Homo sapiens: one gene and its partners. The protein of the gene in region 3 purifies or fractionates together with the protein of the main gene of each other region. This does not show direct contact. Each region holds a gene or a part of one and is shown on either strand. Other genes may lie near its edges.

The links.
Region 1: the proteins of CFLAR (region 3) and PLIN5 purify together in Homo sapiens (affinity purification with mass spectrometry; 3 studies listed by BioGRID and IntAct, with this or other methods). This does not show direct contact.
Region 2: the proteins of CFLAR (region 3) and ITCH purify together in Homo sapiens (affinity purification with western blotting; 8 studies listed by BioGRID). This does not show direct contact.
Region 4: the proteins of CFLAR (region 3) and RIPK1 purify together in Homo sapiens (affinity purification with western blotting; 5 studies listed by BioGRID and IntAct, with this or other methods). This does not show direct contact.

Annotation. Positions count from the first base shown.
Region 1 is NC_000019.10:4,532,205-4,540,151, forward strand, and holds the start of PLIN5 (perilipin-5), read right to left. Parts: upstream 3,021-7,947; 5' UTR 2,961-3,020; intron 1,892-2,960; 5' UTR 1,871-1,891; coding exon 1,811-1,870; intron 1-1,810. Other genes in the region: LRG1 (leucine-rich alpha-2-glycoprotein precursor), read right to left, coding at 5,736-6,747, 7,778-7,809. UniProt on the Homo sapiens protein: Lipid droplet-associated protein that maintains the balance between lipogenesis and lipolysis and also regulates fatty acid oxidation in oxidative tissues.
Region 2 is NC_000020.11:34,478,261-34,485,281, reverse strand, and holds part of ITCH (E3 ubiquitin-protein ligase Itchy homolog), read right to left. Parts: intron 5,653-7,021; coding exon 5,493-5,652; intron 4,684-5,492; coding exon 4,550-4,683; intron 4,217-4,549; coding exon 4,076-4,216; intron 1-4,075. UniProt on the Homo sapiens protein: Acts as an Acts as an E3 ubiquitin-protein ligase which accepts ubiquitin from an E2 ubiquitin-conjugating enzyme in the form of a thioester and then directly transfers the ubiquitin to targeted substrates.
Region 3 is NC_000002.12:201,111,491-201,119,168, reverse strand, and holds the start of CFLAR (CASP8 and FADD-like apoptosis regulator), read right to left. Parts: upstream 3,006-7,678; 5' UTR 2,688-3,005; exon of another isoform or gene 2,485-2,687; intron 454-2,484; exon of another isoform or gene 268-453; intron 142-267; exon of another isoform or gene 1-141. UniProt on the Homo sapiens protein: Apoptosis regulator protein which may function as a crucial link between cell survival and cell death pathways in mammalian cells. Acts as an inhibitor of TNFRSF6 mediated apoptosis.
Region 4 is NC_000006.12:3,071,475-3,078,495, reverse strand, and holds part of RIPK1 (receptor-interacting serine/threonine-protein kinase 1), read right to left. Parts: intron 4,858-7,021; exon of another isoform or gene 4,694-4,857; intron 1,733-4,693; coding exon of another isoform or gene 1,673-1,732; coding exon 1,509-1,672; intron 718-1,508; coding exon 561-717; intron 1-560. UniProt on the Homo sapiens protein: Serine-threonine kinase which is a key regulator of TNF-mediated apoptosis, necroptosis and inflammatory pathways.

The DNA of each region.
Region 1 (7,947 bases), on a different chromosome or scaffold from region 3:
ATTATAAGAGGGAGTCTCGCTCTATCGCCCAGGCTGGAGTGCAGTGGCACGATCTCGGCTCAGCGCAACCTCCGCCTCCCGGGTTCAAGTGATTCTCCTGCCTCAGCCTCCCGAGGAGCTGGAATTACAGGCATGCGCCACCATACCCGTTTTTTTTGTTTGTTTTGTTTGTGTATTTTTAGTAGAGATGGGGTTTCTCCACATTGGTCAGGCTGGTCTCAAACTACCGACCTCAGGTGATCCACCTGCCTTGGCCTCCCAAAGTGCAGGGATTACAGGCGTGAGCCACCGCGCCCAGCCAATTTTGTTTTTATTTTTATTTTTAGTAGAAACAGGGTTTCACTATGTTGACCAGGCTGGTGTCGAACTCCCGACCTCAGGTGATCCACCCACCTCAGGTGATCCACCCACCTCAGCCTCCCAAAGTGCTAGGATTACAGGCCTGAGCCATTGCACCTGGTCACAATTTTTTTGTTTTCAATAGAGACAAGGTCTTGCTCTGTTGGCCAGGCTAGAGGGCAGTGATTCAAGCACGGCTCACTGCAGCCTAAGCCTCCTAGCCTCAAGCAATCCTCCAACCTCAGTTTCCAAGTACCTGGGATTACAGGTGCACACCACTGTGCCCAGCTAATTTTATTTTATTTTATAGAGATTGGGTCTTGCTGTGTTGCCCATGCTGGTCTTGAACTCCTGGCTCAAGCGATCCTCCCGCTTCAGTCTCCTAATATGCTGGGATTATAGGCATGAGCCACTGCACCTGGCCAAATACTATATTTTTTTTATCTGCATTTGGTTGAAAAAGGTCTGCATACTTCTGTCTCCTGGGTTCAAGAGATTCTCCTGCCTCAGCCTCCCAATTAGCTGGGATTCCAGGCAGGCACCACCCCACCTGGCTTTTTTTTTTTTTTGAGATGGAGTCTCGTTCTTGTTACCTAGGCTGGAGTGCAGTGGCGTGATCTCGGCTCACTGCAACCCCCGCCTTCAGGGTTCAAGCGGTTCTCCTGCCTCAGGCTCCCGAGTAGCTGGGAATACAGGCACCCGCCACCACACCCGGCTAATTCTTGTATTTTTAGTAGAGACAGGGTTTCACCAAGTTAGCCAGGCTGGTCTCGAACTCCTGACCTCAGTTGATCTGCCCGCTTGGCCTCCCAAAGTGCTGGGATTACAGGCGTCTGAGCCACCGCACCCAGCCTGACCTGTGCAGTTCAAACCCATGTTGTTGAAGGGTCCACTGCGATCTGTCTGCTCGAGGGAGGAGATGTTAGAGTCTGGGGGTTCAGAGCACTGCCCCTGGAGCACAGTGGCCTCTGTTCACTTCTGGTTCAGCTGCCTGCAAGTTGTGTGAACTTGGGCAAGCCACTGAACTGTTCGGTGCCTTTGTTTCCCCATCTATGAAATGGGTTACTAGGGTTGTGATGGGTGTTCAAGGAGCCAATATACATGAAACGGTTGGAACTGTGACTGATACAGTGATTGCTGCTCTTACTATTGTTGTTACTGAGGGCGCCATGATGGTGGACGTGGAGACAGAAGGATACAGGTGGAGACCCAGGGATCAAAGGAGAGGGAAAGGGTTGGGTAGGGGCCACAGAAGCCAGCTGGGTGTCTTTGAGAGACACTCCCCTCCCAGGGCCTCATTAAGCCCCCACTAGGAAATAGACCATCCCCTCCATGGACCAAAATATTTTATGACTCAGGTTTTCCCAGCAAGGAGAGGAGTGGGGCGGGATACCTGGCCTGAAACGCTCCTAGAAGGGACTGTCCCACACAATACCTTCTGTCCCTGCTCCATGGGAGGGGCAGCCCTCACCTGCTGGTCCTGCTCCCACACACTGGATCTGGGGATCTGAGCCGCCTCTTCTTCAGACATCGTGCTGCAAACAGGGTCACCCTGCGGGGCAGGATTGAGTAAGGGGAGCACCTGCCCAGGCATCAGATCCTGTCAAATTGGGCTCTGTGACTTGAGCAACTCTCAAACCTCTTGGGGCCTCAGTTTCTTCATCTGCATAATGGGGCATTCTGTGGAGCTCAGACAATGCATGTCCAGAGCTCTGTACACAGAGGGTGTCCAATAATGAGCCTCTGGCAAGGTAGGGTTGCCGGAGTGACTCGAAGCATGGTCTCTGAGGTGAGAAAGACCTGGGTTCAAATGCTACCATTAATTGCGGTGTTATTTTTATTATTTTTTTAAAGACAGAATCTCTCTCGCCCAGGCTGGAGAGCAGTGGCGCCATCCCAGCTCACTGCAATTTCCGCCTCCCAGGTTCAAGTGATTCTCCTGCTTCAGCCTCCCAGTTAGCTGGGATTACCCACGTGCCACCATGCTCGGCTAATTTTTGTATTTTTAGTAGAAACCGGGTTTCGCCATGTTGCCCAGGCTGGTCTCAAACTCCTGGGCTCAAGTGATCTGCCCACCTCGGCCTCCCAAAGTGCTGGGATTACAGGCATGAGACACTGCACCTGGCCAGCTGTGTGATTTTTGGCAAGCACCTTCACCTCTCTGGGCTGCTTCCTGTTTTGTAAGATGTGGGAGGTCCCTGCTACCCCTGCGGCCCCTGCCTGGGCCCAGAACTGCCCAAGCACCCTAGACGGCTGGAGGTGGTAGCTGCTGGGTCCCAGTCCACTCACAGCTCATTTGACAGACAGGGCAACTGAGGTACGCAGCAGGTCCATGCTGGTCCCAAGGTCACGCAGCCAGCTAGAGTTACAGGGGGGGAGCTCGACCTCGGGCCTCAGACCTGCCGCCTGCGATCCCTCCGGTTGCCACCCCGCGTCCTCTGAGGCCTGGTCCTCGCCCAACTGGGTCCTGAGCTGGGGCCAACCGGGCCAAGGGTCCCAGCCACCTGCTCTGGCCGGTCATACCCGTCCCACGCCGCCGGACCTTCGCCCAACCACCCTATCTGGAGCTCCTCTCCTAAGCCCGGGGGGGCGCTCCCGGACGCCGCCCTCAGGGCACTCACCTGGGCGCGAGCGGCTTCAGACACCAGCTGTCTCCGCCGACCCCAGGCTCGAGTCTCCACACCCCCGCCGGTCCCGCCCGCCCTTCTTATAGCTGCTCGCGCAGTGGGGGCCTCCGGAACTGACCAATGGGGAGAGGCCGTGCGGGGGCGTGCCCAGGGGGCGTGGCTCCAGGCTTCCCTCGCCCTCTCCTTGAGCTGGCCCAGTGCCCTACGGTTGCCATAGTAATTCGGGAGCGCTAGATTCAAAAGATTGAGCTATTATACGTTCCCGGACCAAGTTTGGCCACCTGTCATCCTCACTGCTGTTGCCATAGAGACAGTCCATGCGATCACAGCCCCCATAGCCCTGCTGAGTGACCTTGGCCAACTCGCTGATGACTTTTCTTATTAATTATTATTATTTATCGATTTTTGAGACTGGGTCTTGCTCGGTTGCCCAGGGCTAGAGTGCAGTGGTGTGATCATAGCTCACTGCAGCCTTGCCCTCCCAGGCTGAGGTGATCCTCCCGCCTCAGTCTCCTAAGTAGCTGGGACCACAGGCACACACCACCACCCCCAGCTAACTTTTTAAACTTTTTGTAGAGACGAGATGTCCCTGTGTTGACCAGGCTTGTCTTCAACCCCTGAGCCCCAAGTGATCCTTCCACCTCAGCCTTCCAAATTGCTGGGATTACAGGTGTGAGCCATTGCACCCAGCCTCTTTTTATTTCTTAATCTGCCCCTTAACTAAGCCAGAAGCCAGGCCTTCCCTTTCCCTAGGATCCCCATTTCACAGATGAGCAAGCTGAGGCTCAGAGATCATAAAACACTTGCCCCGCATACCACAGCAAGTGAGGGATCCTATTCCTTTTTTTTCTTTTTTTTTTTTTGAGACAGAGTCTGACTCTGTCGCCCAGGCTGGAGTGCAGTGGCGCGATCTTGACACACTGCAACCTCCGCCCCCTGGGTTCAAGTGATTCTCCTGCCTCGGCCTCCGGAGTAGCTGGGATTACAGGCGCCTGCCACCACACCTAGCTAATTTTTGTATTTTTAGTAGAGACGGGGTGTCACCATATTCGTCAGGCTGGTCTTGGACTCCTGACCTCGTGATTTGCCTGCCTTGGCCTCCCAAAGTACTAGGATTACAGGCATGAGCCACCGTGCCCGGCCAGGGATCCTATTCAAACCCAGCCCTGCTGGACCTCAGAACCCTGCCTTTTCATTGCCTTGCCTGGAATGACCACAGATGTAGGCATGGTCTTTTTATTTTTATTTTTATTTTTGAGACACAGTTTCACTCTGTCGCCCAGCCTGGAGTGCAGTGGCGTGATCTTGGCTCACTGCAACCTCCGCCTCCCAGGTTCAAGTGATTCTCCTGCCTGACCCTCCCAAGTAGCTGGTATTACAGGCACGTGCCACTGTGCCTGGCTAATTTTTGTATTTTTAGTAGAGACAGGGTTTTGCCATGTTGGCCAGTCTGGTCTCGAACTCCTGACCTCCGGTGATCTGCCTGCCTCAGCCTCCCAAAGTGTTTGGATTACAGGCATGAGCCACGGCGCCAGGCTGCATGGTCATTTTTTAGGGAGCTGGGAAAACTGGACATGCCCCCAAGCCCCAGGGTCTTCCAAATCCGATTGCAGCCCCCACATGGCCAATGCTGTATCAGCAGGTGGGCCCGGGACCCTGCTCATCCCTTCAGCCCCATCCTGCCCCTGCAACCTTGCCCGGGGGCAGGTGCCCCCTTCGATGATCTCAGGTCAGCATGACAAATCGTTTGGAGACCTGGGCAATCTGGTTTAACTTAAACCTTCTCCTAGGACACAAGCCCTGGCAGAAATCCACTGGTAAAATGACACCCGGGCAACAGTCAAGGTTTTATTTCCAGTTAGGTCCCAGGATGGGGGAAGGGAGAGGAGAAGTCACAGGCCATTGATCCCAACTGTCATCCCCTAGGGAGACCATATCCCACACCCCAGGGCCTGGGCCATGCCTCTTTTCCTCCTTCACCCTGGAGTCCTGGGAAGTTGATTTGAGAAGATGCTAGGAACACAATGAAAGCCAATTCATCCGATCCAGTTTTCAAGGGTTATTTATTAAACCCCTTGGTTCTGACCCCAAGCTAAGTGGGACTCAGCATCAGACCCTGCACTCAGAGAGCCCCCTGACTTGGGGAAGACAGAGTCAGAGAAAGGCAGCCCCAGTGTGGCCAGGGCTCAGCTGGAAGGAAGGACAAGGGGCTGGGAGAACCCAGAGTTCAAGAGATCTGGGAAACAGGGAACGGCATTCCAGACGGAGGGCACACCTTGGGCATGGGTAAGGAAAGCCCATCGTGTGTTCTAGGAAGCATGGATGGATGAAACGGGGTCCCAGCCGCTATGGACAGCCCCGAGTTTCACCTGTAAAAGGCAGGATTATTTGTTTTTAATTTTAATTTTAATTTTTTTGAGACAGTCTTGCTCTGTCGCCCAGGCTAGAGTGCAGTGGCACGATCTTGGCTCACCGCAAGCTCCGCCTCCCAAGTTCACGCCATTCTCCTGCCTCAGCCTCCCGAGTTGCTGGGACTACAGGTGCCCACCACCACGCCTGGCTAATTTTTTATATTTTTAGTAGAGACAGGGTTTCACCATGTTAGCCAAGATGGTCTCGATCTCCTGACCTCGTGATCCGCCCACCTGGGCCTCCCAAAGTGCTGGGATTACAGGCGTGAGCCCCCGCACCCGGCCAAAGGCAGGATTATTTGTTAAGCGGGTTGCAGTGTTCTACCAGACCCCCCACCCTCAACCCAAGCCCCTGGTCTCACTGGGACTTGGCCACTGCCAGGAGCGTCTGGCCCTTCACGGCTTCAGGCCCAGCACAGCGCGTGTCATTCTGGGAAAACATCTTGTCTTTTTGGGCCTGAAGCCAACGATAGAGGTCGCTCAGGTTCTGGTCACAGATCCAGGGGTTGCCGGAGATGTCGAAGCCATCCCGCATGTCCCAGTTTGGCTGCCCTAGGGATGCCCAGAGCCCCTCGGGCACGCTGGCCAGTGAGTTATTGGAGAGGTCCAGCATGTCCAGCTGCCGCAGGCCCTGGAAGGCACCGGCTGCCACCCTGGCCAGCTTGTTGCCGTTCAGGAAGAGGTAGCGCAGGTCCGGCTGCGGCAAGAGGAGATCTTTTCCCAGTACTTGCAATTTGTTGCCTTCTAGATGTAGCCGTTCTAATTGCAGCGGACCCCTCAGGAGGTCAGGTGGCAAGGTCTCCAACTGGTTCTCCCCAAGGTCAAGGGTGCGCAGGAGGGTGAAGTTGGCCAGCAGCCCGGGGGGCAGTTTCCGGAGGCGGTTCCCAGACAGGTCCAGATGCCCCAGAGCTTTCAGGCCGTGTAGCCACGAGACCTCCAGGACCTCCAGCTGGTTTTCTTTCAATACCAGGGTGTCCAGGGTGGCTGAGGCCTGGAAGAGGCCCGGGGGCAGCCCGGTCAGGGCGTTTCGGGTTAGATCCAGCACCCTCAGCTGCGGCACTGGCCGCAGGAATTCGGGCGAGAGGCTTTCCAGCCCATTGCTGGAGAGGTGCAATTCTTGGAGCTTAGAGGCGCCCTGGAGGAGGTTGGCTGGCAGGTGGGTCAGGTTGAAGAATTCCACGGCCAGGTGCACGGTGTCGGCTGGCAGGTAGCCGGGGATTTCGGCAGGTGGTTGACAGGAGATGGAGCTGCCATGGTCTGAGCGGAACACCTGGCAGTCTTTGGGGCTCAGGGTGACCCCCCAGGCTGAGGCTGCCAACAGCAGCAGCAGGAACAGAGTTCTAGAAACATGGGGTTGAATGCCCCCTGGGCTGCAGGCAGTAACAGAAGATGCTTACTAAACCACAGTGAAAATACACTCAGCTAGGTGAAAATACACCAGCAAATCCGCCCACTTCTTCCCATCTCTGCGGCTACCAGCCTGGACTATGCTACCTCATCTCTCACCTGTACTAGGGCAGTTGCTTCCTCCTCCTCTTCCAGCTTCTACCCTCACCCCCGACAGCTGCCAGAAGTGGCCCCTGTTCCAGGGAGAATTATAATTCTAGGAAAGTTGAGTTTCTGAGTGTAACTCCCGCATAATATGAATACACTTCCCCATCACCAGCCTAGCCCCCATGAGCTGTTAATTATTCACAGTCCAACTTGCTAGTTTCTTCTGATCTGGCTTATTTTCTGGGTCAGTCCTTGTCTCCCTGGCTCTGTGTTTTGATGTGAACTCCTATTCATCCTTCAAAGCCCCAGCTCCAATGCCCTCTTTTCCATGAAGACTTCTCTGCTCTGGGATCCTGGTCTTTTTGTCCACTCTTGACCAATTGGGTGCTTGGAGGAAGACAGACGTTCAGGTTCATGTTTTTGAGACAGAGTCTTGCTCAGTTGCCCAGGCTGGAGGGAACTGGCATGATCACAGCTCACTGCAGCCTCTGAACATGAAAAGTGTGTCCTGCTTTGGCCAGGTCTGAGGGTGGGCATTTGGCCTTGGGAAGCGGTGGTTTACACTTAGCACCACAACCCTTGGAAGCCTGGGGCTTCCCCTCCTCCTCCAGGGCTTCCCTGGCCCGGCAGCCATCAGACATGATCTCGACAGCCTTGGTCACTGTGGCCCCAGGCCTCTAACAAGAAGCCTCCCCCGGCTCCCTGCTGCCCATGCCCACCTGGGCTTCTGTAGGGGTGTGTGTGTGTGTGCACGCGCCAGTCTTTCTGTCACAGATAAGGTTGATCTGTGCCAGCCACCAGGCCTGTATCTGCTCCCTGTGACTTCTATGGGTTAGCTGGAATGTCCTGTATCTCCGCATGGTCTGGCGTTCAAACCTGCCTAGGACAGGTAGTGTGGGGACCTACCTTTTTGGTCGCTGTCTGCTCCAAGAGGACATGGTAGCTCTGCTCTTTTGCTTCTGGGTTGTCCTGGCCTGCGGAGGTGGCCTTATACCTGCCTGGACTGGGGGCAGGGGAACCAACCCTGGGGAAGTCCCCACCCCCGTCCAGTTCCTGATAGGGGCTGAGCCTAAGCC
Region 2 (7,021 bases), on a different chromosome or scaffold from region 3:
TGTCCACAAAAAGATATCACAAGAATGTTTATAGCAGCTTTACTCATAAAAGCCCCAGACTGAGAAACAACCAAAACATTTATCACCAAGAGAATGGATAAACAAATTTTGAGATATACACAGCATGGAATATTTCTCAGCAATAAAAAGGAATAAAATACTGATATAAACAATATGGCTGAATCTCACAAACACCAAATAAAAGAAAAAATCAGACACTAAAAGCTAGATATAAGAGTACATACTCTATGATTTCATTTTAGGAAGTTTAAGATCAGAAACAGTTATAGAAATAGAACTAAACAGAAATGGTTACCTACCTCTGGGGCTGGGAGAAGGGAGGTGTGCATTGGCCCCTTATGGGGTCCAGAATAGAAAAAAAAGTTCCACAATTTGGGTCATATTTACATGGACATGATGCTATATGGAACAGTGTTTACAGAATTGGTAATTAAATGAGTGATCTAGCACAACTTCTCTCCATAAAATGCTCACATTTGGGCTGATATATATATTTGTCAAATTTCAACTTCTACACTTAAGATCAGTGCATTTTATTCTAAGGAAATTATACTTCTTAAAATAATACTAAAAACCCCCCAAACTCTGAAATTTTAAGCAAGCCATTATTGAAGTAGATACTAAAAACCTTTTTAGCTGCCCATTATCTTAAAATGTTATCTTACCAGCAACAAAACTATTGAGAAACGTAGTACATCTCTTGGAATCTCGAAACATTACCTCTCTGGAATGCTATATATGTCATAAGAAAATCTAGACATATCATAACAAAAAAACTGGAGAATTGACAAAAACGAATTGACTACATTTTAAAAGCAGATTTCAAAATAAACTTTTAAAAGGATAGATTGTTGTCCAAGAAATAATGACAGCTCACTGTGTTAAATAGTATACTTTCAATTATGGAGGGAAAAACCAGGCAAGAAATGCAGAACCTGGAACTTAAGAAGTAAATATGCAAAATTTAACCCTGGCTGGAAAGAATTGCTATTGAGAAGGTATGAATGAACTATTAGCTCTTGAGACTAGTAGCATGAACCAATGGAAATAATCAGAAAGGATATACTATAAAACATCATTTTAGTTATAAATTTTACCCAACCTTATGATATAGTTTGGCTCTGTGTCCCCACCCAAATCACATCTTGTAGCTCCCATAATTCCTATGTGTTATGGGAGAGAACCAGTGGGAGATAACTGAATCATGGGGGCGGGCCTTTCTCATGTTGTTCTCATTATAGTGAATAAGTCTCACAAGATCTGATGGTTTTAAAATGGGAGTTTCCCAGCACAAGCTCTCTCTTTGCCGGCTGCCATTCATGTAAGACATGCCTTGCTCCTCCTTGCCTTCCACCATGATTGTGAGGCCTCCCCAGCCATGTGGAACTGTAAGTCCATTAAACCTCTTTCTTTTGTAAATTGTCCACTCTCAAGTATGTCTTAGCAGCAGTGTGAAAACAGTAAATTGTTACCAGGAGTGGGGTGCTGCTGAAGATAACTGAAAATGTGGATGCAACTTTAGAACTGGGTAACAGGCAGACGTTGGAACAGTTTGGAGGGCTCAGAAGAAGACAGGAAAATGTGGGAAAGTTTGGAACTTCCTATAGACTTGTTGAATGGCTTTGACCAAAATGCTGACAGCAATATGGACAATAAAGTCCAGGCTGAGGTGTTCTCAGATGGAAATGAGAAACTTTTTGGGAAATGCAGCAAAGGTGACTCTTTGTATGTTTTAGCAAAGAGACTGGCAGCATTTTGCCCCTGTGCTAGAGACTGGTGGATTTGTACTTGAGAGAGACGATTGTACTTGAGAGAGATGATTTAGGGTATCTGGTGGAATAAATTTCTACGTAGCAAAGCATTCAAGAGGAGACTTGCGTGCTGTTAAAGGCATTCAGTTTTGTAAGGGAAGCAGAGCATAAAAGTTTGGAAAATTTGCAGCCCAACAATGCAATAGACAAGAAAATCTCATTTTCTGAGGAGAAATTCAAGCTGGCTACAGAAATTTGCATAAGTAATGAGGACCCGAATGTTAATCCCCAAGACAATGTGGAAAATGTCTACAGGGCACGTCAGAGGTCTTCATGGAAGCCCCTCCTATCACAAGCCTGTAGGCAGGCCTAGGAGCTAAAAATGGTTTCATGGGCCGGGCCCAGGGTCCCCACGCTGTGTGCACTCTAGGGACTTGGTGCCCTGTTTCCTAGCTGCTCCAGCATGACTAAAAGTGGCCAAGGTACAGCCCGGGTTGTTGCTTCAGAAGGTGGAAGCCCCAGGAGTTGGCAGCTTCCACGTGCTGTTGAGCCTGAGGGTGCACAGAAGGCAAAAATTGAGGCTTGGGAACCTCCCTCTAGATTTCAGAAGACGTATGGAAATGCCTAGATGCCCAGGCAAAAGTCTGCTTGCAGGGGCAGGGCACTCACAGAGAACCTCTGCTAGGTCAGTGTGGAGGGGAAATGTGAAGTTGGAGGCCCATACAGAGTCCCTACTGGGGCACTGCCTAGTGGAGCTGTGAGAAGAGGGCAACCGTCCTCTAGACCCCAGAATGGTAGATCCACCAACAGCTTGCAGCATGAGACTGGAAAAGCCATAGACACTCAACGCCAGCCCATGAAAGCAGCCGGTGGGGGGCTATACCCTGCAAAGCCCCAAGGGCAGTGTTGCCCAAGGCCATGGGAGGCCACCTCTTACATCAGGGTGACTTGCATATGAGACATGGAGTCAAAAGAGATCATTTTGGAACTTGAAGATTTGACTGCCCTGCTGGATTTCAAACTTGCATGGGGCCTGTAGCTCCTTTGTTTTGGCCAATTTCTCCCATCTTGAATGGCTGTATTTACCCAATGCCTGTATCCCTGAGTGTATGTAGGAAGTAACTAAGTTGCTTTTAATTTTACAGGCTCATAGGCGGAAGGGACTTCCCTTGTCCCAGATGAGACTTTGGACTGTGGACTTTTGAGTTAATGCTGAAATAAGTTAAGACTTTGGGGACTGTTGAGAAGGCATGATTGGTTTTGAAATGTGAAGACATGAGATTTGGGAGGGGCTAGGGGCAGAATGATATGGTTTGGCTCTGTGTCCTCACCCAAATCTCACCTTGTAGCTCCCATAATTCCCATGTGTTGTAAGAGAGAATCAGTGAGATAACTGAATCATGGGATCACGGGGGTGGGTCTTTCCCCTGCTGTTTGCATGACAGTGAATATGTCTCACAAGATATGATGAAGTGTTTTGTTCATTCGTTTGTTTGTTTTGAGACAGAGTCTTGCTCTGTTACCAGGCTGGAGTGCAGTGGTGCTATCCTGGCTCACTGCAATCCCCGCCTCCCAGGTTCAAGCCATTCTCCTGCCTCAGCCTCCCTAGTAGCTGGGATTACAGGCACATGCCACCACACCCAGCTAATTTTTGTATTTTTAGTAGAGATGGGGTTTCACCATGTTGGCCAGGATGGTCTCAATCTCCTGACCTTGTGATCTGCCTGCCTTGGCCTTCCAAAGTGCTAGGATTACAGGCATGAGCCACCATGCCTGGCCGATGATGAGGTTTTAAAAACAGGAGTTTTCCCTGTACAAGCTCTCTCTTTGCCTGCTGCCATCCATGTAAGATGTGACTTGCCCCTCCTTGCCTTCCACCATGAGGGTGAGGCCTCCCCACCCTCGTGGAACTGTAAGTCCATTAAACCTCTTTTTTTTATAAATTGCCCAGTCTTGGATATGTCTTTATCAGCAGCAGGAAAGTGGATTAATACACCTTACAATATTCCCCATGAAAATATCTGCATATATATTTGAGATTCTTTTTAATGACATGTTATACAGCATAGTGATTACAGAGTTGATGTTTAAAAGAGTGATCCTGCATGACTTTTATCCTTAAAACTCTTTTAAAAACACTTAAAAAAAAACTTTTTAGAAATGAAAAATGACTGCCTACATAGGATATTGATTAGTACAGAGACAAATACTATTTTTGGAGATACTCTCCATTAGTATTAGTAAGCAATTATCAATGTGCTGTAGTCAAACAAAAAGTGAAATGTGAAAAGGAGCACTCTCACCTGATGTATTCCTCTTTATTTTCTTCTGTTACAAGAATATTGCCACCATTAGGTTTCAGATCATGACTCTTAATTTCACCTAGAATTTCTTTGTCAACGGAGAAGTACATTTCCAAATCACATTCCTCAATATTGTTTTCCCTGCACAAATGAAATTAGCACTATTTGTTATATCCACCAATTCAATCATAATTTATAAGTTTTTAACGAAAGGCCCATGTTCTTAAATAATTAATATTAAGCTATAACATCAAAATAAGAAGAAATAAGATTCTGTTCTAAGGTCATATTATTGCCGAAGATCTTGGGTGTATTTTTGTAAAATTTATCATATTGAATAAAAAGACAGGTTTGATATATAGATCATTTAAATACAATAAACCAATTATGTGCCTACAGTTTGGATAAGTTATCAATACTACACGGAATGCATATAACTATATTTTAATAAATTACATGGAAAAAGAAACTTACTTAACCCAGATGAGAGAATTGTAAAATTCTGGATCAATAGATTCTAAATCCTTGAGTCCAACTGGTTTGTTCAAGATACGCTTATAGAATGGTAAAGAAAAACCCGTGTCTATGAATTTCCCATGGAACAGAGCCTATGAAAAAAGGAAACAAGACCGCTTAAAATAACTGTACAATAATCATTTTATTTCAATATATTAGATGTACTCTTCATTTAAAAACACTTCCCTGGGTCAGGCATGGTGGCTCACGCCTGTAATCCCAGCAATCTGGGAGGCCGAGGTGGGTGGATCACCTGAGGTCAGGAGTTCGAGACCAGACTGACCAACATGGAGAAACCCCATCTCTACTAAAAACACAAAAATTAGCCGGACATGGTGGCACATGCTTGTTTGTAATCCCAGCTACTCGGGAGGCTGAGGCAGGAGAATTGCTCGAACCTGGGAGGCAGAGGTTGTGGTGGGCCGAGATCACGCCATTGCACTCTAGCCTGGGCAACAAAAGTGAAACTTTGTCTCAAAAAAACACTTCCCTGGCTGGGCACGGTGACTTATACCTGTAATCCCAGCACTTTGGAAGGCTGAGGCAGGTGGATTACCTGAGGTCAGGAGTTCAAGACCAGCCTGGCCAACATAGCAAAACCCCTTCTCTACTAAAAATACAAAAATTAGCCAGGCATGGTGGCGCACACCTGTAATCCTAGCTACTTGGGAGGCTGAGGCGGGAGAACTGACTGAGTCCAGGAAGCAGAGGTTGCAGTGAGCCAAGATCGTGTCACTGTACTCCAGCCTGGGTGACAGAGCAAGACTCTGTCTCAAAAATAAAAAACAAAACAAAACAAAAAACCACTTCCCTTTCTCTCATATGATCTGTTATGGCACCTAAGAGAAAATTTAGTATTGCTGAATAAGCAAAGTAAACATAATTCTTGACCTGCACTTACCATGGCAATAAATCTGCCAATAAAACGAAAATATTTCAGGTGATCTGGATTGATGTAAGAAGCGGGGTTTATCTGCAAGCAGTAGTTATCCTTCCCTGCATATTCAAACAGGCAATACATTGGGTTCAACACTTCATGTGACAAAAGAAAGAACCATTCTCTGAAATCAAAAGAAAATTTACGATGAAAAATCTTGTAGGTTACCAAGAAATCAAAGAACAGTGCTATAAAGTTCTCAGGGATCTATACCCCTCAGCTAGTGATAGTTTTCTAATCTCATGTTGATTTTTATTGCTTCTGTTCAAACTCACATCTGTTTCACAGAGTTGGTAGTATACACCATCTTTGGTAGATGGTAATATATACATTATTACATTTCAAAAAATCTAAGACAACATTGCACCTTTATTTGATGAACGACTAAATTGTATTTTCCAATTTTACCTGAGATACATCGTAATTTCAGAGATATTATAAAATGAAAATATTAGTCTTAGAATCAATGAAATACTATTCATAGGCAAATTTAAAATTCACTATTTACCCATGTGAGTAAAGTGGCTGAAATCAATCTAATATTCCATCTATTACTAAGTCCCATAATAATCCCCATCAAGTGCCACTACTCCCTACACGTTAAATCAATATGAAAATTCTTCCAATTTCACAGAGGCAGTAAAGTTCTTAATTCCAGCCACTCACATATTAGAAAAATGCTGAGACTCTAAGTCAAATATTGTGAAAATATGAACCAATATTAACATAAGATTATGGTTACTAAAACTACGTAACATGGGTGATCTGGGGTAATACATGTGGCATAAGCCTGTAATCTGGATCTCTTTTCCTGTTAGTTCATGGCCTCTTGTGATAAGTGTATCTCATGACACACTTTAATATTGCTAGTTTATTTTCTTATTAGGAATGAATGATTGCTCTCCTCTTCAATTGCCTTTAACTTATACAAAATTACATGTTTCTACTCATATTTGTTATTTATCTATGATTATATCATATATTTTGAAATAATTTTATTTAAACTCAGAAACATAATATAAATAAGAACTACTAAAATGTAGCCACCAATTAGCGTGCACACAAAGACACAGGCTCTGAACTAGGTCATTAATAAACAATATTTCTACTCTTCACAATAATCCTAGAAATGTAGATATTAATATTCTTATTTTACAGATGAAAATATTTGCCCAACATCACACTATTGAGAGCAGAAAAAGATTCAAATCCCGTCTTGACCCCAAAGTCCTTGTCTTTGCACAATGCCAGCTCTACGCAAATTTTTAACCTGGTGTGATATATTATCATGGAATAAGCAAAGCAATTCTCATTAGAGACTATCTTCTAGGGTCCAATATTAAGCTCCAATATGAAGAAAGCAGAATTAAGACTTTCAACTCCTATTTTGTACAACCTTCTATATTTTCATGACAAATATACTAATCTCAGTTGGAAACTGAGTAACTATTACCTGTATCAGTAATCTGTGGTGGGGAAAATGACCTGATCAC
Region 3 (7,678 bases):
CGAGTTTAATTAGCCCCTGGGGCTCTACAGGGAAGAAATAATCAGACTTCAAGGGTGCCCCATTCCCCAGAGTCCATTCCTGGTATTTGAAAGAGCAACATGCCCCGGAGTGTTGTGAGTCCTCTGGAGGCTCAAGGAGACCTAGGGCCAAAAGCGAGGACTCAATCCTTTTCTGCCAGTATCGGGGGACAGTGCCCCGACGTCCCAGGAGCCCAGGGCGACACCAGCCCAGGGGCGGGGATCGGGCAGGATTCTCGGTCTACTCACGCCCGGGCAGCCGCCGGCTCTTCCCACTGGATCTCCGCCGGGACCAACTCCCACCCTCGCCGGACAAGCTCAGACCTGCTGCTCCGCAAAACCAGAATTGGAAATGCTCCAGATGGGACGAGGAACAAGGACAGAAAGTCAAAAGCATCAACAGGTGGCTTCGCCGGAGGGCGTCCGAGAACCTCTGCCTGCTGAACCGCTTCACGCCTAATCCCCGCCACCCACCGGCTGAAATGTTACCACACAAGACATAAATTCTAGAATCCTGTCTGCGGAATTCCCCGCCCCCCGCGCAGTTGAAACTTGCACAGGGCCACTCGCGTGTCTCTGGGTGGTAAAATTCTCCATGCGTGGTCAAACGGCTTATGCATAGCTCAGGACCGTTACGTGCGACCCCACCAGGACTGAGTGGGGACAGCCGCTGCGCCCCCACCACCTACTAGGAGCTGCGGTAGGACCTCCAATGCCCCAGGGGCCTAGGCAATTTCCGCTTCAGCTTCCTGGAGGTCCCCAGCCCAAGGCTCAAAAAACTGCACACTATCCGGCCCACCCCGGGTCGCGCAAGACTTTCGGGGGGAGGGGGAAACCCAGCGACCCTGCAAATGGCTTCACCTTGGAAACCGGTATAAGGAAGCAAGTAATACCGTGTTAAAAGAAGGTCAAATGTCAGTTACAAACAGAAACGTAAAACATAAAGTCGCTAGAGAAAGCCATTTTAACGAGGACATTTGACCCAAAAGCTTAAGTAAAGCAAGTATTAACAAAACAAGAAAATGGATGTAAAGCAAACAGTAAACATTAAAAACTCCCTTTCAACCCAGTCTTTTTTGTTTAGATCTTGGAGTTGGGCCGGGCATGGTGGCTCACGCCTGTAATCCCAGCACTTTGGGATGCCGAGGCGGGCGGATCACCTAAGGTCAGGAGTTCGAGACCAGACTGACCAACATGGAGAAACCCCGTCTCTATTAAAAATACAAAACTAGCCGGGCATGGTGGTGCATGCCTGTAATCTCAGCTACTTGAGAGGCTGAGGCACGAGAATCGCTTGAACCCGACAGGCGGAGGTTGCGGTGAGCAGAGATAGTGCCATTGCATTCCAGCCTGGGCAACAAGAGTGAAATGCTGTCTCAAAAAAAAAAAAAAAAAAAAAAGATCTTGGAGCTCCAGCCAGGTTTTTTGTTCAACGAAACTTTTGTAAGGTTATTTAGGGGAATCACCAAACCGAAAAGTGCCAAAAACTCCGTTCCTCTTATCGGAAATCTCTCTCTAAAGCAGGTCAAACCTTCCAGAGCCCGCTGTCTGTTGTAGATTATCGCAGTTTGTTGATGTCCAAAAAGCTTTACTTATGCTATACGCTATCCCCCTACTGGTTTCACCCCTCATTGCTTAAGAACAAATTTCAAATGTCAACCAATTAAAATATTCGCAAGACCTCTGGCGTCCTTGAATTTACTTCCTGCCCGTGGAGCCAAAAACTGATTCTGAATTTCAGTGGCCTTTGTTCTACTGCGTGCCACTGTTAATATTAAAAGAACATGGCCTTCTGTCCAAATCCAGACACCCTCAAGCAAGAACATCTTGAAGCCAGTTTACATTTCCCAGTCGTTTTGAGGCGGTGGAAAAGTGGCAGAAACAGGTTCATTTTAAAAGGCTCTAAAAACTTTTCATTAGCCAAGCATTCCCAGCTTTCCCAAGGCAAGCTTTCCTTGCACTTGGGCAAAATAGACATTAAACTGCTCTGGAAAATAACCGCCCTGACCAGGCTATTGTGAAATTCCCTCCAGGGCGGCGGCTCCCACTGAGTGAGATCGAGCGCATACACAATTGTTGGGAAAGTCCACGTTCCCAACAACTTTCGAAAGGAAAAATGCCAGATCTTCTCAACAGTTCACCCCAAGAATTGAACTCTCAAGATCATTTTAAGCAAAGTTTACACGACGCTGAGGGCCCGCCACTGAAGCTCGCGGGTGGGCCTCTGGGGCTGCGGCTGCAGGGGGCGGCCAGAGTTGGCCAAGGGTTACTTCCGGTCTCTCAGGTCCATCGGGGTGCAGCTTGTACCGCTGTGGCCCAGGTCGCCCCTTTCTGGGAATCCGGGGCGGAGTTGCGGGTAGAAGGGGTTCGGGGGTTCGGAGCCGGGCGGAAACGGAAGCGGGGGCATTCCGCAAAGCCCGCGGTAAACAACCGAGATAAGGAACCTACAAAACTGAGTCAGGTTCCAGAAGCGCCCCCGCCATCCCCTGGCCACTGCCGGCCACCTGCAGTTTCCCGGAGCGCAGGGCTGTGAGGAGCGGCGCGGGGTGGGACGCGGGGCGCGGCGGCGCAGGGCCTGCTGCAATGCTGACTCAGGGCCGGGCGTCGGGGCTTGGGGTCTGGGACAGCTCCGGCGCCGCCAGCGCGGGGGTCGAGCGCGGGGCACGTACCGTCCTGTCGCGGCCGGACTCTCCTGCCGCTGCCACCTCAGCCTTCGCTCCCCTAGACGCCGGGAAGGCGCACCCAAGATGGAGGCAAAGAAACCGAAAGCCTGGAAGCGGACTTGGTGCTGGGCGATCGCTGTTCGCGGCGCTTCTCTCCTACACCTCCTCCCGTGGTCCTTGTTGTCTCAGCTGTCACTGGACAAAAGTCCAATAGCCGGCACTCACTGTGTGAGGCCGAGTCCCCACCCCTAGCTCCGGGAGTCCCTTTTAGTTGAGACTCGTCGGTGAGGCTGCAAGCTCGCTGTTTCCTGCTATGGCTTGTGTGACTGAGTATGCAGTAACCGGGGGTGGATGTCGACACAAGTTCCACGCGTTAGGAGTAAACACTGCGAGTGTTTTTTTTTTTCTTTCTTTCTTTCCTTCTTTTTTGAGACAGAGTCTCGCTCTGTGGCCCAGGCTGGAGTGCAGTGGCGCAATTTCAGCTCACTGCAACCTCCGCCTTCCTAGTTCAAGCGATTCTCTTGCCTCAGCCTCCCGAGTAGCTGGGACTACAGGCACGCGCCAGCACGCCCGCCTAATTTTTGTGTTTAGTAGAGACGGGGTTTCACTGTTGGCCAGAATGGTCTCGAACTCTTGACCTCGTGATCCGCCCGCCTCGGCCTCCCAAAGTGCTGGGATTACAGGCGTGAGCCACCACGCCCGGCGCGAGTGTTTACAATTGTTGTCTGGGAGTCATAGCAAACGTGAACACACTTTGTGGTTTTTTGTGTGTATGTTTTTGTTTGTTTTTTTTTGTTTTCCTTCTTGAGACAGGGTCTCGCGCTGTCGCCCAGGCTAGAAGGCAGTGGCGCCATCACAGCTCACTGCAGCCTGGATTTCCCGCTCTCAAACCATCCAGCCCTCAGCCTCCCAAGTAGCGGGGACCACAGGTGCAAGCCACCATGCCCGACTAATTTTTTTTTTTTTTTGTATTTTTAGTAGAGATGGGGTTTCACCATGTTGGCAAGGCTGGTCTCCAACTGCTGGCCTCAAGTGATCCTTGCCCGCCTCGGCCTCCCAAAGTGCTGGGATCACAGGCGTGAGCCACCGCGCCCCTCTACGTTTTTATTTATTCCTAATAACTACTTTATTGTGATTCTTAAAGAGCTTTAACTTTTCTTGAGATAATTTTAAACTCACAGGAAAGGTGAAGAATAATACCAAGAGAGACTAACAGCAGGACGGCATGAAGAGCTCGGGATTCACCCCTAGTGAAACTGAAAATTATTTAAAACAACAAACAACCATTAACCATTTAAAGCCTTTGAAATGGTCCTAAGGGCAAACAGCAAATGAAGAAACATCTGTTCCAAAAAATCTATGAAAACTCTTGGATCAGAATGTGAGAGTCAGTCTGTGGTATTTAAACCAAACCTCTCCCTTTGTTCAGCAAGAGACTCCACTCCAGACTGCTGCAACTCAGAACCTCTCTCTTCCCACAGCTCCCAGTCAGAGACCAGCATATCAGCATTTCTCATCTTGCCCCTAGCTACCTGATGCTGAAGGTAAATCCTGGGGGAGTGTGGTGGAGAGGTGGGAGATTCCTTCTTCCATCCAGAGGCTCTACCTTGGGTGGAGTGCTGAGACACCAGAGGAGACTTCAGCTCTTTTTCTCCATCACTTTCACCCCATATTCACCCCCAACCTTTTTTTTTAATCTCTCCATCTTCCCAAGATAGTTATATTCTGTTTGATTAATCTTCAGTATATATGCTATTATAATCATGTAAACGGTAGTCACAGCCAAGTTATGTACCAAACTATGATTACTTTTCCTTTCCCACACAACTTTTAGTTTTTTCTGGAGTTAATAATTGTCTTGTTTTGTTGGTTTTTCCATGTAATTCTATCCTAAACTCTGTCAGTTATCCAAGTTTGGTTTTTTGTTTGTTTTTGAGACAGGGTCTCACTCCAGGCTGGAGTGCAGTGACCCGATCACAGCTCACTGCAGCCTTAACCTCCCAGGTTCAAGTGATCCTTCTGCCTCAGCCTCCTGAGTAGCTAGGACTACAGGTCCTAGCATGCCACCATGCTAGGTGTGCCACTACAGGTGCCACCATGCCCAGCTAATTCTTTAAAAAAAAATTTGTGGCCCGGCGCAATGGCTTATGCCTGTAATCCCAGCACTTTGGGAGGCTGAGGCGGGTGGATCACGAGGTCAGGAGTTCAAGACCAGCCTGGCCCAGATAGTGAAACCCCATCTCTACTAAAAATACAAAAAATTAACTGGGTGTGATGGCGGGCGCCTGTAATCCCAGCTACTCAGGAGGCTAAGGCAGAGAATTGCTTGAACCCGGGAGGCGGAGGTTGCAGTGAGCCTAGATTATGCCAGTGCACTCTAGCCTGGGAGACAGAGTAAGACTCCATCTCAAAAAAAAAAAAAAAAAAAAAAAAAAAAAAAATATATATATATATATATATATATATATATATATCTAGTAGAAGCGGGGGTCGTGGGTGGCAGGGAGTCTTGCTATGTTGCCCAGGCTGGTTTTGAACTTGCCTCAAGTGATCTTCCTGCCTAGGTCTTCCAAAGCACTGGGATTACAGGCATGACCACTGCTGCTCTTGGCCTTTCTTATCTTTTTAGTACACCAAGAAAATTTTATTACAGATCAGCACCTGTCCTTAATTTGGAAACTACTATTCAAGAACACCTAGCTTAGCACCTCCATCACCACCTCCAACCCACCCTATCCCAAGTGAAAGCCATTTCTGGTTGTCAGTAGAACCATCATAGTGGACTTACCCCAGGCCCACCTTGCATGCCCACTGATTCTTACCACTTCAACACACACCAGTATGACTTCTAACCCAGCATATCCATATGTCGTTCCCTGAGGGCTTTTTCTGGCTCACATTGGAAGCCCATGTTGTCATCCCATTTGGCAAACCAGTAGGGGCAGGCATTTAACCCCCTACCCCTGTGCCATCCTTATCCTTTGGCTTCAGCAGCCCTCAAAGAATGACTGTATACACCTATGTTGACACTCCCACCTGCAGTCCACTTTCCATTTACATCCTCTTAAAATCAGCCACCCCTTGGGCTTAGGGATGTGCATACTTGCAGCATAGTTTGTCCCTGGGGTATGGACTTGGGGAAGAGGCCAATGTAGGCCCTGGTGGGAGGCTCAGGGCTCTTTGCGTAGAGAACTTCAGGTCTTAGGTACCCAAAGAGGGTTTATTCTTTTTGTTTTTTTGAGACGTAGTCTCACTCTGTCACCCAGGCTGGAGTGTAGTGGCACAATCCTGGCTCACTGCAACCTCTGCCTCCCAGGCCCAAGCAATTCCCTTGCCTCGGCCTCTCAAATAGCTGGGATTATATGCGCGCACCACCATATCCGGCTGATTTTTGTATTTTTAGTGGAGACAGGGTTTCACTACGTTGGCCAGGCTGGTCTTGAACTCCTGGCCTCAAGTGATCTGCCCACCTTGGCCTCCCAAAGTGCTGGAATTACAGGCGAGAGCCACCACACCCAGCCCCAAAGAGGGTTTTAAACAGAGGGTCTCGGTGTGGGCATGTCCTCTTGACCTTGCAGACTCCTCCCACCTCTGATGATTCTCCTCACCTGAGGGAAGGGCACAGCCCAAGAAGAGCCGGAGCAAGGCCCTTCTAAATCAGGGCCCACAACAGGACCCCCAGTGCCTGGGTCCAAGGGCAGTATTGCTTAAGCCTCTCTGACTTTCTGTTTCCACACTTAACAAAGTAGCAACAAATGTTCACGTTTTCATCAAATTCACTGGTTGTAAACCTTGGCTGCACATTAGACTGTCCCCAAGGAGCTGCAAAAACCTCAGTGGCCAGGTACCATTCCAGACTAATTGTATCAAAATCTCTGAGAGTGAGACCCAGGGATTGGTAGTTTTTAAAGCTCCCCGTGTGATTTCAATGTACAGTTAAGATTCAGAACAACTGATCTAATCCAAACATTTTCTCACTCCGTCAACCACAACCCAATTTTCAGATGAAGAATCTGAGGCTTAAAGTGAGTTAATAAATTGAGACATCTCACAACTAGCTAGTGACAGGACTAGGACAGGATGCCAAGAATTTATCTAATGCTTTTCCTTATATCACAGTGGGTGACTTGGGAATGGAGAATTAATAGCCACAGCAATGACTTTATATCTACTCTCTTAGCCACACATCCTGCCTCAACTCCTCTGACATTCTGGGAGAATATATTCTTGGCTGGGTATGGTAGCTCATGCCTATAAACCCAGCACTTTGGGAAGCCAAGGCAGAAGGAACACTTGAACCCAGGTGTTCAAGATCAGCCTGGGCAATACAGGGAGAGCCTGTCTCTACAAAAAATTAAAAAATTAGCCAGGTGTAGTGATGCATACATGTGGTCCCAGCTACTCAAGAGGCTGAAGTGGGAGGATCACTTGAGCCAGGCAGGTTGAGGTTGCAGTAAACCATGAGCACAGCACTGTACTCCAGCTTGGATGACAGAGTGAAACCCCGTCTCAAAAAATATATATAAATAAATTTAGTTTAAAAAGAATACATTCTTTTTTTTTTTGAGATGGAGTCTCGCTCTGTCGCCAGGCTGGAGTGCAGTGGCATGATCTCAGCTCACTGCAACCTCCGCCTCCCGGGTTCAAGCGATTCTCCTGCCTCAGCCTCCCGAGTAGCTGGGACTGCAGGTGCGCGCCAGCATGCCCAGCTAATTTTTTTTTTTTTTTTTTTTTTTGAGACAGAGTCTCACTCTGTCACCCAGGCTGGAGTGCAGTGGCACGATCTCGGCTCACTGCAATCTCCGCCTCCTGGGTTCAAGTGATTCTCCTGCCTCAGCCTCCCAAGTAGCTGGAATTACAGGCGCCCACCACTACGCCCAGCTAATTTTTTGTATTTTTAGTAGAGACAGGCTTTCACCATGTTGGCCAGGCTTGTCTCGAACTCCTAACCTCATGATTCACCCGCCTCGGCCTCCCAAAGTGCTGGGATTACAGGC
Region 4 (7,021 bases), on a different chromosome or scaffold from region 3:
GTATGGTAAACAGCCAATCACATTCCTAAGACACAGACTATGGAGGACTGTCCACAGGATCGAGAGGATGAAGAGACCACTCTCAGGGCAGTAAAAGGCAAGGAAGATTTTCTCTTTTTTTCAGAGACAGGGTCTTGCTCTGTTCACATGCACCTTTTATTTTTTGTAGAGAGGGGATTTCACTGTGTTATCCAGGCTGGTCTTGAGCACCAAGGCTCAAGTGATCCTCCTGCCAAAAGTGCTGAGATTACAGAAGTGACCCACGGAGCCCAATCAAGGCATAGATGTTTTAAGGAGAAACTGACTTCAGGAAATCCAGCCTGTAATCCCAGCTACTTGAGAGGCTGAGGTGGGAGGATCACTTGAGACCAGGTGTTGGAGTTCAGCCTGGGCAACATAGCAAGACCTTGTCTCTATAAAAAAAGGAAAAGAAAATTCAAACTACCAAGCAATTTGCAAATTTGATGCTAACGAGCTGCAAACAAACACCCCAAGGGGAGCCATAACAGACAGCCAGGGCCCAAGCGCTGGGGATCCCCGTGCGGAGGGGCCCTCTCTACCTCGGCTTTCAGCACGTGCATCAGGTTGCCCTTCTCCATGTACTCCATCACCAGGGAGTACTTCCCTTCCTCTATGATGACGCCCAGGAGCTTCACCACCCGGCTGTGTCTCAGTCTGTTCATCATCTTCGCCTCCTCCAAGAGGGCCTCGTTGTGCCTGTGGGCAGGAAAGGTGCTATGCTGAGGCTGGCAGAGCCAGCGCCTCAAGAGCCTGGTGCACACCTCCAACACATCACTCCCACGTGCTGGGGTCATGCTTGGGTCTGTACCGATCTCTTCCAGGCACAGGCCAGAAGCGTTAGAAGGCAGAGCGGTTTCTCACTTCCTCACAGTACTCCTGCCCAGTAACTGGCAGTGCATGCTCCAAAAATGTAAATCAATGAAGGAATGAATGAATCAATGAATGAAAAGTACATGAACAGCAGCAAGGTAACCTGAAAAAAGACCGTGCTGGACAGAACGATTAAAAAAAAAAAAAACAGCCTCTCTCAAAACCACTCTGACAAAGGAGGGAGAGAGGTGAAACCACTCTACTGGTTGCTTTAAAGGGAAGGCTCTCAGAACCTCTCAGGAATGAACTGCCTTTTCATTTTTATACTTAGGGCTGGTCCTCACTGAAAATGTGAAGCGAGTGAATAGGTCTGTCTTCACCCATCCTCCTGTTTCCTTTTCATTGTCCCCCCACCACACTTATCTCTTTGTCTTTCTCTATTTCCTTCTTGTTCATGTCTCTTCTGTTACTTACCAGCTGTGAGAGTCCTTCACTACCCAGTCTCAGAGTCCACATCAGCGACAATAACAATCCGAAGAGCCATCGTCACCCTGACATCTTGGCAGGCTCCCTCTCACTCTACCCACCAACGGCTCCGCAGCAGCCAACGGCTCCACAACAGCCAACGTCCCCATCCCGCTCAGAACTTAGCCCACCCACCCCTGCTCCCTACTCACTCAATGCAGTTGGGCCCCTTGTACACTGTTTTCATGATCATGAGTCCCTGGGTTCTGTGGAAACACAGAGACACCTTCCCAAAGCCTCCGCTGTCCAGTTCTGCACTCTCCAGGAAGTCACTGGATTTCATCTTAATGACATTCAAGGACATGTCTGGTTGCATTCTGAAGCTCAAGAACGCCCAAAATGGTACCACTTTTTCCCCCCCCGGCAGAGCTGTACCCTGTAAAGAAAACAGAGAGAAAACCTCAGGGCAAGACTATATATATATATATATATATATATATGTTTTTTTTTTTCTCCTTTGGAGACAGGGTCTCACTTTGTCAGTCAGGCTGGAGTGCAGTGGCACAATCATAGCTCACTGGAGCCTCGACCTCCTGGGCTCAGGCAATCCTCCTCCCTCAGCCTCCTTGAGTAGCTGGGACCACAGGTGCACCCCACCGTGACCAGCTGATTTTTTAATTATTTGTAGAGATGGGGGGGCCGGGGGATCTCACTATGTTGCCCAGGCTGGTCTCAAACTCCTAAGATCAAGGGATCCTCCCACCTCAGCCTCCCAAAGTGCTGAGATTACAGGTGTGAGCCATTGTACCTGGCAGAAAAGATCATTTTTAAAAACTTTTGTTAACATTCCACCACATGCTTGGTGTGCCTTGGATTTCTGAGGATAGACTTACAGTCATCTGATGAGCTATTTTTCATATTTTTAAGAATCAGAGAAGACTATAATATTTATTCCCTCAGCCTTTTTATTTCTGGCAATATGGAGCATTAGAAAATTTTAAGAACCCTCCAGCTATAAAGGACACAAGTATGTTGGACAACATAATACAAACATTCATTGAAATGCATACCAAAACTCCGTGGAAAGGAAAAGAACTCTAGGGACAGAAACAGAGCACCGGAGGCAGGCAGTAGCTCACACAGGGGAGTGCCAACCTCGCCATCCAGAAGTCAAGGTTTAAAGCCCAGCTGAGGTCAAGGAATACAAGAAAAGAAGGTAGAATGAAGAATCCCCCCTTAACACGGCACTGCTCAATGTGCAACCCTTTGATGAAAGGATGAACTAGAAAAAAAGCAGCCCATGGCAAACAAACATATTTGTCTTGGACTGGGCACAAGGTATTAAAAAAAAAAAAAAAAAGTTTGTGCAAATTTATAACCTTGGGCCTGTCTTGAAATAGATACAGACTTTGAATTGAGAGGATCGCCTAAACTATGAACTTTTACACAGGAAGTGGTCACAGGCTGATGCCATCCTGAGGTTATAGGCTAAAGCAAACAACAACCTCAAGCCAGGCCAGACAGAATTCCTACAAATACAAATTTAACATGAGCTCCCTTTCCAAAATTATAAAACACAAAAGAAAAAATTCACTGTGAGACAGACCCTGCAGCTACAGCAAGCAGCACTAGTAAGCACCAAAGAACTTCAGTAAATTAACAACTGAAAGGCATTAGAAAATGAATAGGTTTAAGTAATTATGAACAAAAGAAGGAATCTGAAGAATATAAAAAGAACAATGCAAACTCTAAGAAGAAAATGTGAAAAAGGAGTAGAATTTGGAGAATGTCCATCAGGGCTGTGAAGTATACAGTGTCAGATCTCAAAGCACAGCTATTTGCTTCATCCTTCCTCCCTTCTTTTCTTCCATTCATTCATTTTCCCCAAACTGAAATATAGAATAAAAACCCATGGAGAACCACAAGGAGACACCACTACACAACTACCAGGATATCCAAAACTAAAAAGACTAATACACCAAACACTGGCAAACATGTGAAGCAACCAGACCTCTCAAACATCACTGGTGGGAGTATAAAATGGTACAAACACTTTGGGAAAAGGGCTGGCAAAAAGCTTCGTGGCAAAACAGAAACTCCATGCAAACCAACAGGACACGGACACACTGGTGTGTGCATGTGAATGTGCGTGTCTGTGTTTTGCTTTGAGAGTAAAAGGAGGGCTATGGATGTTTTGTATTCCAGAAATACCCACATCCCGGCTGGGCGCCGTGGCTCACGTCTGTAATCCCAGCACTTTGGGAGGCTGAGGCGGGCGGATCACGAGGTCAGGAGTTCAAGACCAGCCTGGCCAACATGGTGAAACCCCGTCTCTACTAAAAATACAAAAATCAGCCAGGCGTGGTGGCACGCGCCTCTAATCCCAGCTACTCAGGAGGCTGAGGCAGGAGAATTGCTTAAATTTGGGAGGCGGAGGTTGCAGTGAGCCGAGATCGCATGCCACTCACTGCACTCCAGCTTGGGCAACAAAGTGAGACTCTGTCTCAAAAAAATTAAAATAAAATAAAATAATAAATATCTACATCCAGATACAGACCATGAAAAATACTCTTTCTGGGGCATAAAATATTCATTGAAATTTCATAGGCATTTATTTTGTTTATAAAACCACAAACACCTGCACTATGACCCAGCAATTCCAATCCCAAGAGAAATGAAAACGTATGTTGGAAAACACTTGTAAAATGTTCATAGCAACTTTATTTATAATAGCTCCAAACTGGAAACAGCTGCCCATCAGTAAGAGAATGAGTGAACACACTGGTGTATGAACACGATGGGATACTACTCAGCAATAAAAATGAACTACTGATACACATGAATGAAAACCGCATGAACGAAATGCAAAAACGTGATAAGTGAAAGTCGCCTTATACAAAAGCATACATACTATGTAATTCTATTTATATGACGGTTCAGAAGTCAAAACCAATCTGTGTCAGAAAAAGAACACTGGCCGCCTGTGAGCACGGTGAGGCTGAGTGGGCAGGGGCATGAAGGAACTTTCTGGGGTGATGATAATGTTGTAGGATATCAACGGGGGCTAGGGTTGCAGGCATACGCATCTGCCCATACTCAGCAGATGTACTCCCAACAACAGCAGGTAAATTTTACATCAAAAGACAAACCTGTAAACATATTGAACTCTAGCTATGGTATGCATGCTGAAGTATTTCGAGATGTGTACTGATGTGTACTTGGAAATACATCAAAAAGTCAGACAATGACGGACAGATGACGGGAAAGGAGATGGAGAATTACACGATGAAGCAAGCGGTGTTAAGACGATAGTCGTGGTGGACGTAACCTTCAGACTTGGTGTTTTTCATAATAAAATGTTGGAGGGCAGGGAGTTAAAAAATGAAAAAAGAAATACCTTGGGGAGAGGGGACTCTGGAAACTCCTAGGCTGCCCATGGTGTTGCACAGTGGCCGGCTACAGGTGACCCGGGTAACCAGCCTTCTACACCTCATCTAAAGGCTGGGGCCAGCTCTGTCTAGCGGAGGAAGCTCATACAGCAGCACCTATGGGCCTTCTTTCCTAGGACATAAGACATTACCAAACAAGAGAAGTGCCTCAGGAAACAACTACATCGGTGGGACGTGGGCAGTGGGTGGAGGCGGGGGGCTGCCTAGATGAAGGCCTGAAGACTGAGGGGTGGGGTGAGGCACACGCGTGAGGTAAGAGACCAGGAGCCATAGCTCCGAGAGCACGGGCCCTCCACTATGAGCGTGAACTCTAGCTCTGTGACTCACCAACCTGTGACCTTGGGGCACTTACTTATGCCTCAGTTTCCTCATCTGCAAAGTGAAACAATAATGACCACCTCACAGAAGTGGTAAGGATTATGAGAAAAAAAAAGTATACGTTCATGTATGTATACGTATAAATATACATATATTTGTATATGTATATATGTAATATATAATATATGATATAAAAATGTATATGTGTGTATATATACACATATTTGTATGTGTGTATGCATATATTGTATATGTAGATATATAGCTATATTTGTCTATGTGTATATACGTATATGTATATATTTGTATATGCGTATATATGTACATATGTATATATTTGTGAAAACACGTTTGTTGCCTGCTTTATGTCTCTAGCTATGGTTGGCCCAGCCGCCCACATGTGTTTATCCACACGGGTGTTGTTTCCTTGGGCTTTGAGAATGCCAACATTCTCAGCTGGGATCACTCTGTCAGCAGGGCCCTACTGACCAATCCTAGTGAGAATGAGGTAGGAGCGGGTGGAGACAGAGGGCATAAAAGATAACATTGATTTTAGGCCTCCTTTTTCATTCACTACACATCACTGGAGCAGGCAGAACTGTGAAGCCTTCCCCATTCCATAAGGGTCATCCGCCCCACCCTCTTAGGCCATATTCTTCCAACTTCTTGCCTGGTTAGGTGTCAGAGAACTGTCATTTTGTCAAGGAAGCCATCCTAAGTCTTCCCATTAGACACTTCCATAGGTAAGACAGTACTGTAATTGAGAATTATTTCTCATGAAGTTCACAGAAGGCAGGAAACTTGTCTTGTGCACCATCTCCAGAGCCTAGCAGAACCCAACGTATGCCGGCCCATCATCAATTGAATAACTATTTTAAAAAGAGAACTATTTAATTGTCCAAAAAAATAAAAATAAAAATATTGTTAAATGAATTACGGCACACTCCTAACAGAATATTATATAGCCATTCAAAATTGTTTTTGACGAATAAATCTGTAAAAATTATATTCACATTTGTGTGTGTTTTATATATATATATATGTAAATAGATAAAGATATAAGTACAGATAAAAAAGACATAAAGACACCAAAATGTTAACAAGGATTGTATCTTGATGATAGGTTGATTTTTACTTTCTTCTTTACACTTTTACTATGTTTTCCAAATTTTCCACAATAGACATGAATTAAATGTAAAATTAAAATTATTTTTTTGAAAGGAATAATTCCTTGACTCAGTATTTCTTTACTCTGAGGGATCAAATCAGAGATGCTGATAAAGATTATGTGCAAAGCTGTTCCTGGTAGCATTACATAGAACAGCAAAAGTAGGTAAAACACTTAGCATGTACAGAGGAGAGAATCAGTTATGCCCATCAACACTGAAATATATCTAGCAGTTTGCAAAAGCGATGTTGTGAAAGAATGTTTAATAATATTTAAAAAAGGTCACAGACAGTAAAGAAACAGGCAGGAACTACAACATGCCCTGAAAAATGCCCTTTTGAGTAAAAGGTTTCTACTTTATGAGGAGTCCTATTTGGTATCTCTTCTTCAGTCTCAGCCACATCTCCTCAAATTTGTCAAGACCAACTAGGACCTGCAGGTGCTGCTGTGTGCGGTGGAGTTTGGGAAGGCCTCTAGTTGGGTCCACTGGACTTTGGGAGCTTAGCTCCTGACCCAAGTCAGTTCTCCTTACAGTCTTGCGGTTTGCTAGTTTAGTCTGTTAATCTTCTGCATCTTCTGCATGGTGTTCAGTGATTTCTTTTGTTTTTCCTATCCACCCCTCTTTTTTCCACATGAAAGATTCAACTTTATGAGCACTGAATATCTTAGGAAGGCCTTGTGAGTAGTTGAAGGATATACAAAAACAGTGAATTTAGGCAGCTTATATGGCCATACTGCATAACCATATTATTACAAAGCCATGACACAGAGTGACAAAGACATGCTGGCC